2 linked regions of the Homo sapiens genome follow. The protein of the gene in region 1 interacts with the protein of each later gene in a biochemical or structural test. Each region holds a gene or a part of one and is shown in the gene's direction. Other genes may lie near its edges.

Region 1 (7,023 bases):
CCTAGAAGTAATCACCAGTTTTGATGAGTTTAGTTTTTGATATTTTCTATGTATTTACAAAATGGGCTCCTGCTGTACGTTTGGTTGTGTATTATGTTTAACCATGTATTAGATCTTTCCCTGTGAATACGTGTACTCTGTCTGGTTTTCTTAACTTCTATACAATATTCCATGATATGGATGTACCATACTTTAATTCAATCCTCTACTGATAAACTTGAGGATTGCTTCTAGGTTTCTCCCTATTAAAAACAATCTTGGAAAAAAATTCTTATCCATATCTAGAGGAGATATTTAGAAGTAGAATGGATGGCTTGAGGAGCTTTTCAGTATTAATAGATACTACCATATTGCCCTCCCAAAATGTTACACTTTATACTTTCACCAGTAGTGTATTAAAATACTAGTTTCTCTGTACCCTAGTCCAGTGGTCCCTAACCTTTTTGGCACCAGGGACCAGTTTTGTGGAAGACAATTTTTCCACAGATCTGGTTGGGGAGATGGTTTCTGGATGATTCAAATGCATTACATTGATTGTGCACTTTATTTCTATTATGACATTGGAATATATAATGAAATAATTCTACCACTCATCATAATGTATAATCAGTGGGAGCTCTGAGCAACTAGACAATCCCATCTGGGGGTAATGGGAGAGAGTGACAGATCATCAGGCTTTAGATTCTCATAAGGCACATGCAATTTAGATCCCTTGCATGCACAGTTCACAGTAGTGTTCACGCTCCTGTGAGAACCTAATGCCTCTGCTGATATGACAAGAGGTGGAGCTCAGGTGGTAATGCCAGCAATGGGGAGCAGCTGTAAATACAGATGAAGCTTTGCTGCTTGCTCACTGCTCATCTCCTTCTGTGGGCTCCAGTCTGTGTCCTTGGGGTTGGGGGCCCCTACCCTAGTCCACATTTAATGTAATCATTTAAACTTTTGACATTCAGATTAGGGAAAAAATAAATCTTACTTTAATTGAACAGTTTTTCTCATGCTCATTGATTGTCATACTTCTGAATTGCCTATTCATCTCCTTAGCCTATTTTTCTAAAGGATTCCTTATATTCTTAACGAGTTACAGAAGCCCTCTATTATCCAGTTCATCCTTTGTAATATATGTTACAAGTACTTTTATTTGGTTACTTGTCTTTTTGCTCTGTTATGAAAGTTTTAATTGATACTATTTGAAATCTGTCCACTTTTTCTTTGAGGTTTCTGAGTTTTGTGCAGGAAGACTTTATGGATGGTGTGAGATAGGAATAAAAACATTTTTTCCTCAATAACGAGTTGTGCCTGTCTCATTTATTTTCCCTATTATAAACTTAAAGATGTTAGTGTTTCTTTTACTGTGGTTTGCTTTCAAGGCGTCTCAAATATTTTGATATAGAATACTGGATTTTTGAACTAAACCTCCCTGCGCCATTTTCTTTTTATCTTCCCCACCCCCCATTCCGCCTTACTATGTTGTCCTGGCTGGTCTCAAACTCCTGGGCTCAAGAAATCCTCCTGCCTTGGTCTCTCAAATGGCTGGGATTAGAGGTGTGAGCGACTGCACTTGGCTCCACCATTTTCTTTTTTCTTTTCTTTTCTTTTTTTTTTTTTTTTGAGACGGAGTCTCACTCTGTTGCCAAGCTGGAGTGCAGTGGTGCAAGCTTGGCTCACTGCAACCTCCGCCTCCTGGGTTCAAGCCATTCTCCTGCCTCAGCTTCCCGAGTAGCTGGGACTACAGGCGTGTGCCACCACGCCCAGCTAATTTTTGTACTTGTTTTTTAGTGGAGACGGGGTTTCACCATGTTGGGCAGGATAGTCTCAATCTCTTGACCTCGTGATCCACTGCCTCGGCCTCCCAAAGTGCTGGGATTACAGGTGTGAGCCACCGCACCTAGCCATGGCCCCATCATTTTCTTTTTTTTTTTTTTTTTTTTTGAGACGGAGTTTCGCTCTGTCGCCCAGGCTGGAGTGCAGTGGTGCGATCTCGACTCACTGCAAGCTCCGCCTCCCGGGTTCACCCCATTCTCCTGCCTCAGCCTCCCGTGTAGCTGGGACTACAGGCGCCCTCCACCACGCCCGGCTAATTTTTGTATTTTTAGTAGAGACGGGGTTTCACCGTGTTAGCCAGGATGGTCTCGATCTCCTGACCTCGTGATCCACCCGTCTCGGCCTCCCAAAGTGCTGGGATTACAGGCGTGAGCCACCGCGCCCGGCATGGCCCCATCATTTTCTATAGCACTTTGGGAGGCTGAGGCGGGTGTATCACTTGAGGTCAGGAGTTCGACACCAGCCTGGCAAACATGGCAAAATCCCATCTCTACTAAAAAAAAAAAAAATTAGCTGGGTGTGGTGGTGCATGCCTATAATCCCAGCTACTCGAGAGGCTGAGGCAGGAGAATCGCTTGAACCCAGGAGGTGGAGATTGCAGTGAGCCGAGATTGTGCCACTACATTCCAGCCTGGGTGACAGAGTAAGACTACATCTCAAAAAAAAAAAAAAAAAAAAAACCGAAATTGAGGCCAAAAGAAGGTTCAGTTTCTCAAGAAGACACAGTTAGTGTCAGATCAAGAACTAAAATCCAGGATGTTTCTCTGTACCAGACTTCTTCAGAGGGCATAGTAAAATTGCCTTATTTGTGGAATTGTGCTGCTAATCTTGCTTTTACAGGCAGGGGAAAAAAAGCATTCTTGTATTGTGATCATCATCTTCCTATCTTGGCATTTTTCAGAGAGTGTTTTTGTTTTTTTTGAGACTGAGTCTTGCTCTGTCACCTGGGCTGGAGTGCAGTGATGCGATTTCAGCTTACTGCAACCTCTGCCTCCCAGGTTCAAGCCATTCTTCTGCCTCAGCCTCCCAAGTAGCTGGGACTACAGGTGTGCGCCATCATGCTTGGCTAATTTTTGTATTTTTAGTAGACGTGTGGTTTCACCATGTTGGTCAGGCTGGTCTTGAACTCCTGACCTCAGGTGATCCCAAAGTGCTGGGATTACAGGCATGAGCCACCATGCCTGGCCCAGAGAGTATTTTTTATTTTATTTTTACAGGCTACTTTATATACCTAAAATTATGTTGTTCTACCTGTTCTACTTCCAGTCTTAAAAATTCATATACTTGCACTTTTAATCTTACAGCAGCAGCCGCTCTTCTAAAACATTCAAACCAAAGAAGAATATCCCTGAAGGATCTCATCAGTATGAACTCTTAAAACATGCAGAAGCAACTCTAGGAAGTGGGAATCTGAGACAAGCTGTTATGTTGCCTGAGGGAGAGGATCTCAATGAATGGATTGCTGTGAACAGTAAGTTTTAAAATGTAACTTTGCTGTTTTCTAGAAAGGTTTTGCTAAAATCTCTTTGTTAATGAATTTTCTTTTACAGTTAGAACTGTTTTAATATAACAAATTATCTGTAAAGAAACATTAAGTACAAATACATCCAAAGCTATGTTGCTCTTTTCAGAGTACTAGGTGGTAGTTTGTGAGGTTGAGTAGAGGGAGCTGAGGAGAAATGATGAGTGCTTTTGGGCAATTTCTAAGAAGAATAGTATGAAAAGCTGAGTAAGGTCAGATAAAAGATTGATAAATGAAAAGATTATGCCTGTTGTGGTCTGTGACTTTGTAGCAAATCCATCTACAGTTTTACTTCCACTCCCAGCAGTACTCATCAGCCTGCATATCCAGAAAAGTCAATTGCAGTTCATATGGACAGTTGATTGTTGTGACTTAGAGTGGCAGAGGGAATTGAGAGATTGGGAGAAAATGGAGGGATCTGAGCTGAAAGTCACTTTAAGTTCAAGAGAACAAGTGCATGACATGGGACAATATGCTAAGGCTAGAGATTTGAATGTGAGAGTCTCTCATTTCTGAGATGATATCATTTCTGGGTAATAAAGTTTAAATTAGAGATTTCAGATGTTCCAGGAATAAAAAGTTTAAATAAAAAGTTTAAAACTTTTTATTTATTTATTTATTTATTTATTTTTGAGATGGAGTCTTGCTCTGTTGCCCAGACTGGAGTGCAATGGCTCAATCTTGCTTCACTGCAACCTCCACCTCCCGGGTTCAAGCCATTCTCCTGTCTCAGTCTCCTGAGTAGCTGGGATTACAGGCACACGCCACCACACCCAGCTAATTTTTTACATTTTAGTAGAGACAAGGTTTCACCATGTTGCCCAGGCTGGTCTTGAACTCCTCAGCTCAGGCAATCTGCCTGCTTTGGCCTCCCAAAGTGCTAGGATTACAGGCATGAGCCACCACGCCCAGCCTAAAACTTCTTAATGGAAAATTTCAAACATATAAAAGTAGACTAAGTACAGTGAATTCCAGGTATTCATTCCATTACCCAGCTCCAACAAATATCAGTTTGTGACCAATTTTTCTTCTTCTATATGTCACCCTGATTATTTTAAGCAAATCCCAGACATGATGTTTTATCTATAAATATTTCAGTAAGGTATGTCTAAAAGACAAGAACTTGTAAAGATAATGACAATGCCATCCTCCTTTAACTTATCAAATATCTGGTCAGTGTTCACATTTTTCATGACTGTCCCATAAATGTTTCTTTTATTTTTTATTTTTTTTTTATTTTATTTTTTGAGATGGAGTCTTGCTCTGTCACCCAAGCTGGAGTGCAGTGGCGAAATCTTGGCTCACTGCAACCTCCACCTCCACCTCCCGGGTTTAAGCAATTCTCCTGCCTCAGCCTCCCCAGTAGCTGAGGGATTACAGGTGTCCGCCACCACGCCCGGCTAATTTTTGTATTTTTAGTAGAGAGGAGGTTTTGCCATGTTGGCCAGGCTGGTCTCGAACTCCTGACCTCAAGTGATCTGCCCGCCTCAGCCTCCCAAAGTGCAGGGATTACAGGCGTGAGCCACCGCACCTGGCCAAATGTTTTCTTTTTAAAATTTTTTTGCTTTAAAAATCTATGCTTTGTTTAAATCAGGATCCAAAGAGGCCTGTGTGTATGCTTCTTGAATCTCTTTTTTTTTCTTCAGAGATGGGGTCTTGCTTTGTTGCCCAGGCTGGAGTGCAGTGACATGATCATAGCTCACTGCAGCCTCAACTTCTGGACTCAAGTGATCCTCCCACCTCACCCGTCCGAGTAGCTGGGACTACAGGCTCACACCACCATGCCCTGCTAATTTTTTTTTTTTTTTTTGAGATGGAATCTTGCTCTGTCGCACAGGCTGGCGCGATCTCAGCTCATTGCAACCTCCTCCTCCTGTGTTCAGGTGATTCTTCTGCCTCAGCCTCCTGAGTAGCTGGGACTACAGGTGCCCGCCACCACACCTGGCTAATTTTTCTATTTTTAGTAGAGACGAGGTTTTGCCATGTTAGCCAGGCTGGTCTCGAACTCCTGACTTCAGGTAATCCACCCACCATGGCCTCCCAAAGTGCTGGAAAAAACCCAGCCAAAAAAAAACCTTTTTTAAAAAACTTTATTCAGGGCCGGGCATGGTGGCTCACGCCTGTAATCCCAGCACTTTGGGAGGCCGAGGCAGGCGGATCACGAGGTCAGGAGATTGAGACCATCCTGGCCAACATGGTAAAACCCCATCTCTACTAAAAATACAAAAATTTAGCTAGGTGTGGTGGCACGCACCTGTAGTCCCAGCTACTTGGAGGCTGAGGCAGGAGAATCACTTCCCGGGAGGTGGAGGTTGCAGTGAGCTGAGGTTGTGCCACTGCACTATAGCCTGGGCGACAGAGCAAGACTCCATCTTAAAAAAACACACACACACAAAAACAAACAAACAAACAAAACTTTATTCAGATTATCATCTGTTATTCTGAAGTCATTTATTGACCTTCAGCCTTAGATTTTTCTTTGAGACTTAACTGCTGTAGATCAGCAGTTCTCAAATTTTTTGGTCTCAGATCCACTTACCCTCTTAAAAAATTATTGATTCCCATAAATATGTACCATTCTGTGTTAATTAAAAAAGTAAAATACAAGCTGGGCATGGTGGCTCATGTCTGTAATCCCAGCACTTTGGGAGGCTGAGGTTGGCAGATCACTTGAGGTCAGGAGTTCGAGACCAGCCTAGGCAACATGGTGAAACACCAGCTCTACTAAAAATACAAAAATTTGCTGGGTGTGGTGGCACACACCTGTAATCCCAGCTACTGAGGAGGCTGAGGCAGGAGAATTGCTTGAACCTGGGAGACGGGGGTTGCAGTGAGCCAAGATCGCACCACTGCACTCCAGCCTGGGCAACAGAGTGAGACCCAGTCGGGGGAAAAACAAGGTAAAATACAAAAAATACAAAAAAAATTATTGAGAACCCCAAAGAGCTTTTAATTATATTGGGTATATCTCGTGATACTCTGTTGGAAATTAAAACTGAGAAGATGTAAATAGTTATTTTTATTTTTTATTTTCTCTCGAGACAGTATCGCCCTGTCGCCCAGGCTGGAGTGCAGTGTCACGATCTTGGCTCACTGCAGCTGCCTCCTGGCTTCAAGCAGTTCTCCCACCTCAGTCTCCAGAGTAGCTGGGATTACAGGCATGTGCTACCATGCCCGGCTAATTTTTGTATTTTCAGTAGAGACGGGGTTTTGGCATGTTGGCCAGGTTGTTCTAGAACTCCTGGCCTCAAGTGATCCGCCTGCCTCATCCTCCCAAAGTGCTGGGATTACAGGCGTGAGCCACTGCACCCGGCCCAAATTCATTTTAAAATAACAATAATAAACCCATTACATGTTACCATAAATATGTTTTTACGAAAAATGACTATTTTCCATAACAAATTTTAGTGAGAAGTATGGCATTGTTTTATATTTTTGCAAATCTTATTTAATGTCTGGCTTAATAGACACCTGGATTCTTATATCCGTTTCTGTATTCAGTCTGTTGTGATATTACACATCATGGAGCCTCTGGAAAACACCATTGTGCCCTCTTGAGAGAGTAAGAGTGAAAAGAACAATTAAAATGGTTTGACCTTACAGATCCTCCCTCAGATAGGGGATTCCTGGACCACGTTTTGAGAATAGCTCTTCTAGACCAAACCAACTTCCACCTG
Region 2 (7,861 bases), on another chromosome or scaffold:
GTATAAGCTTGCAAAAAAAAAAAGTGACATACTTTGCTACTTCAGATATACTAGTCTGTTTCTTCCCCTCTGAGATACTTATTTCAGCATTCAACAAAAATTTATTGAGTACCTACTATGTACCAGGCATTGTCCTGGACACTTAAGATATATCAATGAGCCTAACGGATGCAGATGCCCTGTGGACCTTGTATTCCAGTGGGAAAAAAACAGATATTTAACAGATATTAAAGGGTGAACATACAAAATAGATAAACTACCTAATCTATAGCTCGTAAATAAATTTATTAATATAGAATATATGTCATAAGAAATATATAAAATATGAGATAGATATTATAACATAGTTTATAAAGAAATTATCCAGTACATTAGAAGGTAAAATGTGTCATTATAAAAGAAAAGGAGAGATTGGGACTCCTGAAGGGAACGGGAGAAGGCAGGCTCTGACGTATTAGGTAGAGAGGTCAGGGGAGGCCTCAATGAGAAAATGACAGTGGAGCAAAAACTTGAAGGATATAAAGGCATTAGTTCTATGTAACAGATTGTTTCTTTTTGGCATCCCAAATGATCAGAACCAAATTTGAGGTTCAAGCACAGTACTCTAGAGGCCCCTGTGGTCTGTACGTTTGTAATCTTTTGTCCTCGAGAGGCAGGATAGGACAGTGGTTAAGGGTATCGGTTCCACTGTCAACCTGGATTCAAATACTGCCTCTACCACTTACCAGCTACGTGACTTAGGGCATCATATTTCATGTCTCCCAGCCTGAGAGAAATGCCTCCCTATGCTTCAAAATGAAGATAATAATAGTACTTACCTCACATGGCTCTTTTAAGGATTAAATGAAATAATGTACACAAATTCCTTTGCACACAAGAATAAACTCAATAAAAAAACAGCTGTGATTATTGAGCTTTGGTCATGTCACTCAACGTTTATTTACATTTTCTTTGGTCCTGATTCTTTATCCTCATTGATATTTTAACATTGTTTTATGGATCCTGCCCCTTTGGTAAGCTACTTCAAATCCTTTGTGGATTGGGGTAAGTTATAAGTAAGTAAATAAATACATAAATAAAAATCTGGATAGGGGGACATTTTCACTGAAGCAAAGCATTTCATTACCAAGACAGTGAATTGCAAGTGGGCCAAAAGCAAGAAAGATGGACTCTAATCTCTAACAGTCCACCAAGAACCACCAGTAAAACACTCTCTGGTTTCTCAGACCATCTTTTTCTCCCCATCTCCTCTTTCTTAAATCCCTCTTCTTCCCTCTATCATGAAAGGGTAAATGAGTTACACAAAACGGCTCAAGAAGACTCCTAAGTCGTCACAACCTCACAACTATTTCGTTGCCATGGGCCTCACAGGACTCTTCCTCATCAGAGAAGAGAAAGGAAATCAAAGCAGTCACTTTCCGTGTGTTGGCAGGGTGCTGGTTAAGTGAACAGAGTCAGACATAAGCTAGAATCTCGTTTAGTGAGCTCTGTGGCCTTGGGAAAGCCCCTGGACCTTTCTGTGCCTCCTATTCCTCCTTGGTAATAGCAGTCCCTCCTAAGGTGTTTTGGCAGATCAAACGAGAGAATGCAGGGAAGCAACGTGGATAGCTTATTTTTAAAGCCCTCAGAAAATGCTAGATTTCCTTCCTGAACTGCACCCTGGGGTAACACTCTTCAATAAGAGGGTGTATAGGGTGGAAACAGGGTGAGGAGACTAGTTTAGGTATATCCCTATCTGACAGAAACTCAATACAAGAAACAAAAGAAGAAAGATCTTTGTTGTTGCTGTTGCCTTACTACTTTCTAGAGGTATTGTCATACTTCTTCCTTCCCATAGCCCTTTAAGATGGGCATTATTATCCACATGTGACAGCTGGGGCTGGGCTTTGAACCCAGAGCACACAGCTAGGAATGTTTGCGAGGCACCGCTAGCTTTCCGAAGTTGCCTTTACAAGGGCAGCCATTAGCCTCCACCACAGGACATCAGAGGCAGCACTGACAGGAACCTGTGAGGCCCCAGTGCACCTGGAGTACCATGACTCTGTGACCCCTGAGCTGGGGACATCAAGAATCTGGGCCAGGCTGATGCCACTGAAGCTCTCTAAGCCCTACTTTCTCCCCTTCCTTCCATCAGCCCAAAGGGCTTTCATGTTAAGGCATCCCTGCTTCTGTGACCACGTGCTATGGAACTGGCTAGATCTGAATTTGAAACACACACCTCTTAAGTGACCTTAAGTAACTCACTTATTCCTTCTGCTTCCTCTACTGAAATTGGGGATGTCAAAAGGCCTACCTCCCACAGATGTCATGAAGATTCAATAGAGCAGTGCCTTGAGAAAACACAAAACACTACCTGGCACATACTAAAGTGCCCATGTATAGTAGCTGCTATTGTTCAACTGATGCAGCCTGGAGAAATCAGCCTCATGCCGAACCATGGTGATGATGCTCTCGGGGGGTAGGGAGCAGGTCCTGGCGTACAGGCTGAAATGTCTACTCACACTTCCACACAACCCAAGCAGTATGGCCTTTTTACCCAATATATAATCCTCCCCCACCCCACAGGAAACTCCTTGAGGGCAACACAGGGACCTAATTGGGTCTAGGTCTCTAGGTCTTTTCCTAGGGGAAAAAAAAAAAAAAAAGACCAATTGAGGCCCAGCCTAGGGCCTCCCAATCAGTGCCGTTGATCCACAAACATGTGCTGATGGGCCCTTCTGTGCTGGGAACTGGGGAAAGGGAAGACACCCCGCCCTACTTTCCAGGAGTTCATAGTGCACCTGGGGAAAAAGAGAAGGAACCACTATCACAGCAGACAGAAAGTAATGAGAGCTGAGTGTCCCTGGAAATGTGGGGAGAAGGAGGTGGTATTTAAGCTGGACCTTAAAAATTAGTCAAGACATGGGAGGGATGGCATTCCAGACTGAACAGGGACAACGTGAACAAAGGCCTAGAGACAGGAAAACACAGGGTTTGTTTAAAAAACAGATTAGTGAGGTGAGGCTGAAGGATTGGGATGGGAGGGGATTGAGATGGGAGCTGGCAATGAAGCCAGTGAGCCTCAGGGGCAGGGAACAGAAATAAAAGTCATAGCTGCATGGAGAAAATGAGGAGGGAGGGCCAGCAACTTTAAACAGGATAGTTACAGCAATTATCTTAGAAGCGACACATTGAGCCTGGGCAGGGTGGCTCACGCCTGTAATCCCAGCACTTTGGGAGGCCAAGACGGGCGGATCATGAGGTCAGGAGTTCGAGACCAGCCCGGCCAACATGGCGAAACCCCGTCTCAACTAAAAATACAAAAATTAGCTGGGCATGGTGGCGGGCGCCTGTAGTCCCAGCTACTCGGAAGGCTGAGACAGGAGAATCGCTTGAACCCAGGAGGCAGGGGTTGCAGTGAGCTGAGATGGAGCCACTGCACTCCAGCCTGGACGACAGAGCAAGACTCCGTCTCGGGGGCGGGGGGGTGGGGGGAGTGACACTTTGAAGAGGTAAAGGAGTAGCCGTGTGACTATCAGAGGGAAGAGTTTCCAGGCAGACAGACCAGCAGTGCAAAGGTCCTGAGGCCACAGGGCTGCCACGCCGATGATGCATTAAAAAGGCCAATGTGACTGGAGCGTGGGAGAAGGGGGAGGGTGGTAGAAAGAGAGGTTAAAGAGCTAAAAAGGAGCCAGTTCCTGAAGGGCTTTGCAGGTCATGAGGGGCCTTTAACTTTCCCTTGGATGAAATGGAGTGCTAGTGTAGGATTTCCAGTAAAGGAACGACGTGCTCTGACTTAAATTTTAAAGGATCGCCTTGACTGCTGTGTAGAGAATCAGCTGCAGGGGGCCAAGGGTGGAAGCTGGGAGACCAGTAAAGAGACTATAATGGAAATCCCGGGGGGCGGGGGTGGATGGTGGCTGGAACCAGGGTGGTAGCTACGTGGTGGCTCGCCTCTGATTCCCCGTGTAAAAAATGGAGTTTAGGATCCCTGCCCTGTGTGCAGCCCACAGCCTCAAGCCCCCATGGGGATGGAATGCCGGAAACCTCTGGCCAGCGCACTAGCAGCCTGGAGAATACGGAAGATTGTGGCAGGATTGTGGGGCACATGGGCAGCTCCCTGCTCGTCCGGGCCCCTGGTGCCCACGAGAAAACCAAAACAGGTGCGTGCCCCGCGCCGCACGTCAGGAGGGCAAGACTCAGTGGAGGGAGGGGCTGTCCACTCGCTCTAGCTCCCCAGAGGCTGAACAGGGAGAACTGGGAAAAAGGACGCCTCCTCAGCGTCCTAGAACGAGTCCTCGGCACCTGGTATTGCATGCGCCCTAGTATGGGGCCGCTCCACTTGCGCAGGTGTTGGCAACATGCGGGGAGCGCCACGGCATGCCCCCAATGAGCCGACTCCCTCCCCCAACTCTGCCCCCTTTGTCTCGCTGGCCCCTACTCCTTCTGTCTGCCTGTCTGTCCCGTCCCAGGTTCAGCGCGCACGGCCCTGCCGGGGTCCCTCTGGCAGTTGCCGTAGCCGCGCGGCCCGACCCGGGGCTCCCAAGAGGAGAAAAAATCATGAATGAAATGGATGCGCTGCTCCCACTCCTCCGCCCTCCTTGTCCAAGCAACCTTGGCATGGGGGCGACGACTGCGGAGACTCCGCGCAGAGTTGCTCGGGAGAGGGAGGCACCTGAGATGAGGTCAGGGGTTAAGGGTCTGTGATCCGGCCCCCTTCGTGCCCCGGGAGCAGGCCGCTCTCCCGGTCCCCCGCCCCGCCAGCCCTGCGCAATTCCCGGCGAGCGGCGGAAGCCCGCCCGGGGGCGGGGCGGAGCCGGGGCTGGGGGGTGCCAAACCCACCCGGCGGCTGCGCCAGCGACTCTGCAGCTGAAGCGCATTTGGTGAGGCGGTCGGGCGAGGGAGCGCGCACGGAGCGCGGGACGGAGCGCCAGGCGGACGGACCGAAGGACGGAGGCACCGAAGGACGGACGCCCCCGCACACGCAGACGCACAGAGCTCGGCGCGGCCCCCGTCGCATACACACTGGCACAGACACAAGCAGGGACACACGCAGACACACGCACACTCGCGCGCGCATCCTCCCGCCAGCCTGCCCGCCTGCTCGCCGGCGCCCGGAGCCCGCTCTGGCCGGTAAGTGCGGCGCCTCCGTCTGCGCCTTTGTGTGCGGAGCCGGAAGGTGGAGGGCGCGGGTCCCTCCTTCGGGCGGCCCCGCAACTGACACCTTCTCCAGCCCTCCCGGCCGAGGAGCCGGCGCCCGCCCCCGCCACGCCCCCGTGGGGCTCTGGGCGCCCGCATGCTGGGGGAGGGGTCCCCCATGCAGAGGAGGGGGCTTGTCGCTTGGTAGCCGGGAGGGAGCGGCAGCCACTCCCCACGAAGCCCGTGCGCGGTTCCGGGGAGGAATCGGGATAGTGGTTTGGGGTCTGAGCCTCTGCGGCCGGCGGAGGCTGGTGCGCGGCTCTGGGCTGCATCGCCTCTCCGGAGCCTGAAGCCCCTGAGGGAGATTGGAAATCGCCGCTAGCCTTCTGGCCTCTAAAGCGCGGCTCCCAGCCTTCCCATTGCTTCGCCTCCACCGACCCTTTAGCTTTAGCCTCCCGCGTCCCACCCTCCCCTAGAATACAAGCTTAGCGCGCTCCCCTCCCCCAGCATGCTGCTTGTTTCTGGTTGAGGCCCAGGCTCCTGCAAAACCGGAGATTGCCCGGGTCAGAGCCTTGGGAGGCTTACCTTATCAAGGATCACAGGGCTTAGAAGATCAGGGCCAGACGAATCCTGGGAACTTATTCAACCTTCTCATTTTACAGATGGGGAAACTGAGGCCCAGTAAGGTGGCGGACCAAGGTCACCAGAGAGTTAGTGGTAAAGCTTTCATTAGAATCTAGGGTTCCTGGTTTTCATACTCATGCTCCCCTCCTACACAACTAGATCCCACCCACATTGAAGCCCCAGAACCCCAAAATTCACCTGAGTGTACCACGAAAGTGTGTAATTCCAGCCCTGCCCCACTTGGAGGGGCAGGTGCCATTCATTTTCTACCTTCCCTACCTATGGTACCAAAAAAAGGGGAGAGGGGGCTTTAATTTGCTTCCTTCAACCTCAAAGGAGAGCTCTCATAACACTCAAACACTCCGGGTTTGGGATTCGTTTGGGAGAATGAAGAAGCCCAGGACCTGAGATCAGATTCCCAGGCGTTAGTCCTGATCCACCCAGGACACACTGAGCCTGAGTGTCCTCAGTTGGACCAGGTGATGTGGCATCCCAGGATTCGTCCTCTTCTCCACTGTGTCCTGACTGCATGCCCTCCCAGTCACCCTTCCCTCCCGCTTGAGGGCCAGATCTTCTACTCCAACCAGGCCCCTGTAGTCATCCCTTTGCGGAGGTCCCCACCTCTTTCTCCTTGGGGCTCGTTAAGGGCAGCCTCTTGGTGCTGCTGACAAAGCTGCTGGGGAAGCTTGAGTTACAATCACACCAGGTTCGGGTGGTTTCTCAGCACGCGGCTCCCTCAAGGGCAGCCAGGTGTCCCCAGAGCTGAGCCTGATGCCTGGTGCAGAGAGGGTGCCCCGAGAGATGTGTTGAAGGAGTACAAGCATAGACGGATGGTGAAGGGATGGAGTCAGTCACCTTGGAGGAGACTGGATGGAATAGTTGGCAAGGAGGGCAGTGTTCAGTCTCCAGGGACCTGAGGTTCTGGTCTCAAGAACTTCCTTTTTTTATTTTATTTCCATAGATTTTTGGGGAACAGGTGGTATTTGGTTTCGTGAGTAAGTTCTTTAACGGTGATTTGTGAGAATTTGGTGCACCCATCACCCAGAGTATACACTGAACCCAATGTGTAGTCTTTCATCCCTCATCCACCTCCCACCTTTCCCCCAAGTCCCCAAAGTCCATTGTGTCATTCTTATGCCTTTGCATCCTCATAGCTTAGCTCTCACTTATGAGTGAGAACATACAATGTTTGGTTTTCCATTCCTGAGTTACTTCACTTAGAATCATAGTCTCCAGTTCCATCGAGAACTTCCTTTTTGAGGGGGGTGAGCAGCTCATCATGGAGCTGAGCCAGGGTGGCCAAGTGGCAGAACTTCAGGGGCTGCCACTGACAGTGTAGTCCATGTAGATGGCATTGGCTATGAAGTTTACACAGACTTCATAATGAATGGTGGCCCCTGGGTTTTTGCCATGTAGGGATTTCTGCCTTGAGAGTGAAGGGATCTGGATTCCAGTCCCAGTCTCTTCCTCACTGGCTGTACGGTGTCAGTATATAACCCTTTTGGGTCTCAATTTCTCCATCCAAAAAAATAACATCATTGGATTGATGATGTTATGAACTATTTGGCGGTGGGGTGGGAGCACGTATTTATGTAACTGCTATGGGCTTCTTTTGCTTTATGAAGGAATAATTTCTGACTCAAGAATGATGTATGTAGAGTACTTAGTACAGTCCCTAACACATAGAAAATGCTCAGGAATTGGTAGCTAGTAATTCCACTAGGACTCCAGCTTTGTGGATATACCCTATACTTCTTCCTTTCTTCAGATCATCCAAGGACATGGGATTCTTAAGGCCTCAAAGTCCTCCTCCCTCAAAAAATTCCTTTCCCCCTGACCTATTCCTGGACTTCAGGCTCAGCCAGCATAAAACATCTGTGAAAACTCCCTGGGAGGATCAACACTTTTGTTTATTCAACCTTTTGTACGTTAGCGTAATAGAATTTCATAATTAATTTGTATGTAGTGTCAAAAGCTCTTCCTATACTCTGTCACTTACTCCTCATAAGACATCCGTGACAATAGTGTTATCATCCTCATTTTGCAGATAGGGAAATTAAGGCTTGGATTTTCACTTATCTAAGGGTGCATACCTCAAAAGTCTCAGATCCAGAGAGCT

Evidence for each region. The genes of interacting proteins can lie anywhere in the genome.
Region 2: the proteins of MOB1A (region 1) and PTPN5 form a complex in vitro, tested with the Homo sapiens proteins (one study listed by BioGRID).

Annotation. Positions count from the first base shown.
Region 1 is NC_000002.12:74,168,858-74,175,880, reverse strand, and holds part of MOB1A (MOB kinase activator 1A), read left to right. Parts: intron 1-3,128; coding exon 3,129-3,295; intron 3,296-7,023. UniProt on the Homo sapiens protein: Activator of LATS1/2 in the Hippo signaling pathway which plays a pivotal role in organ size control and tumor suppression by restricting proliferation and promoting apoptosis.
Region 2 is NC_000011.10:18,788,776-18,796,636, reverse strand, and holds the start of PTPN5 (tyrosine-protein phosphatase non-receptor type 5), read left to right. Parts: upstream 1-4,838; 5' UTR 4,839-5,112; intron 5,113-7,861. UniProt on the Homo sapiens protein: May regulate the activity of several effector molecules involved in synaptic plasticity and neuronal cell survival, including MAPKs, Src family kinases and NMDA receptors.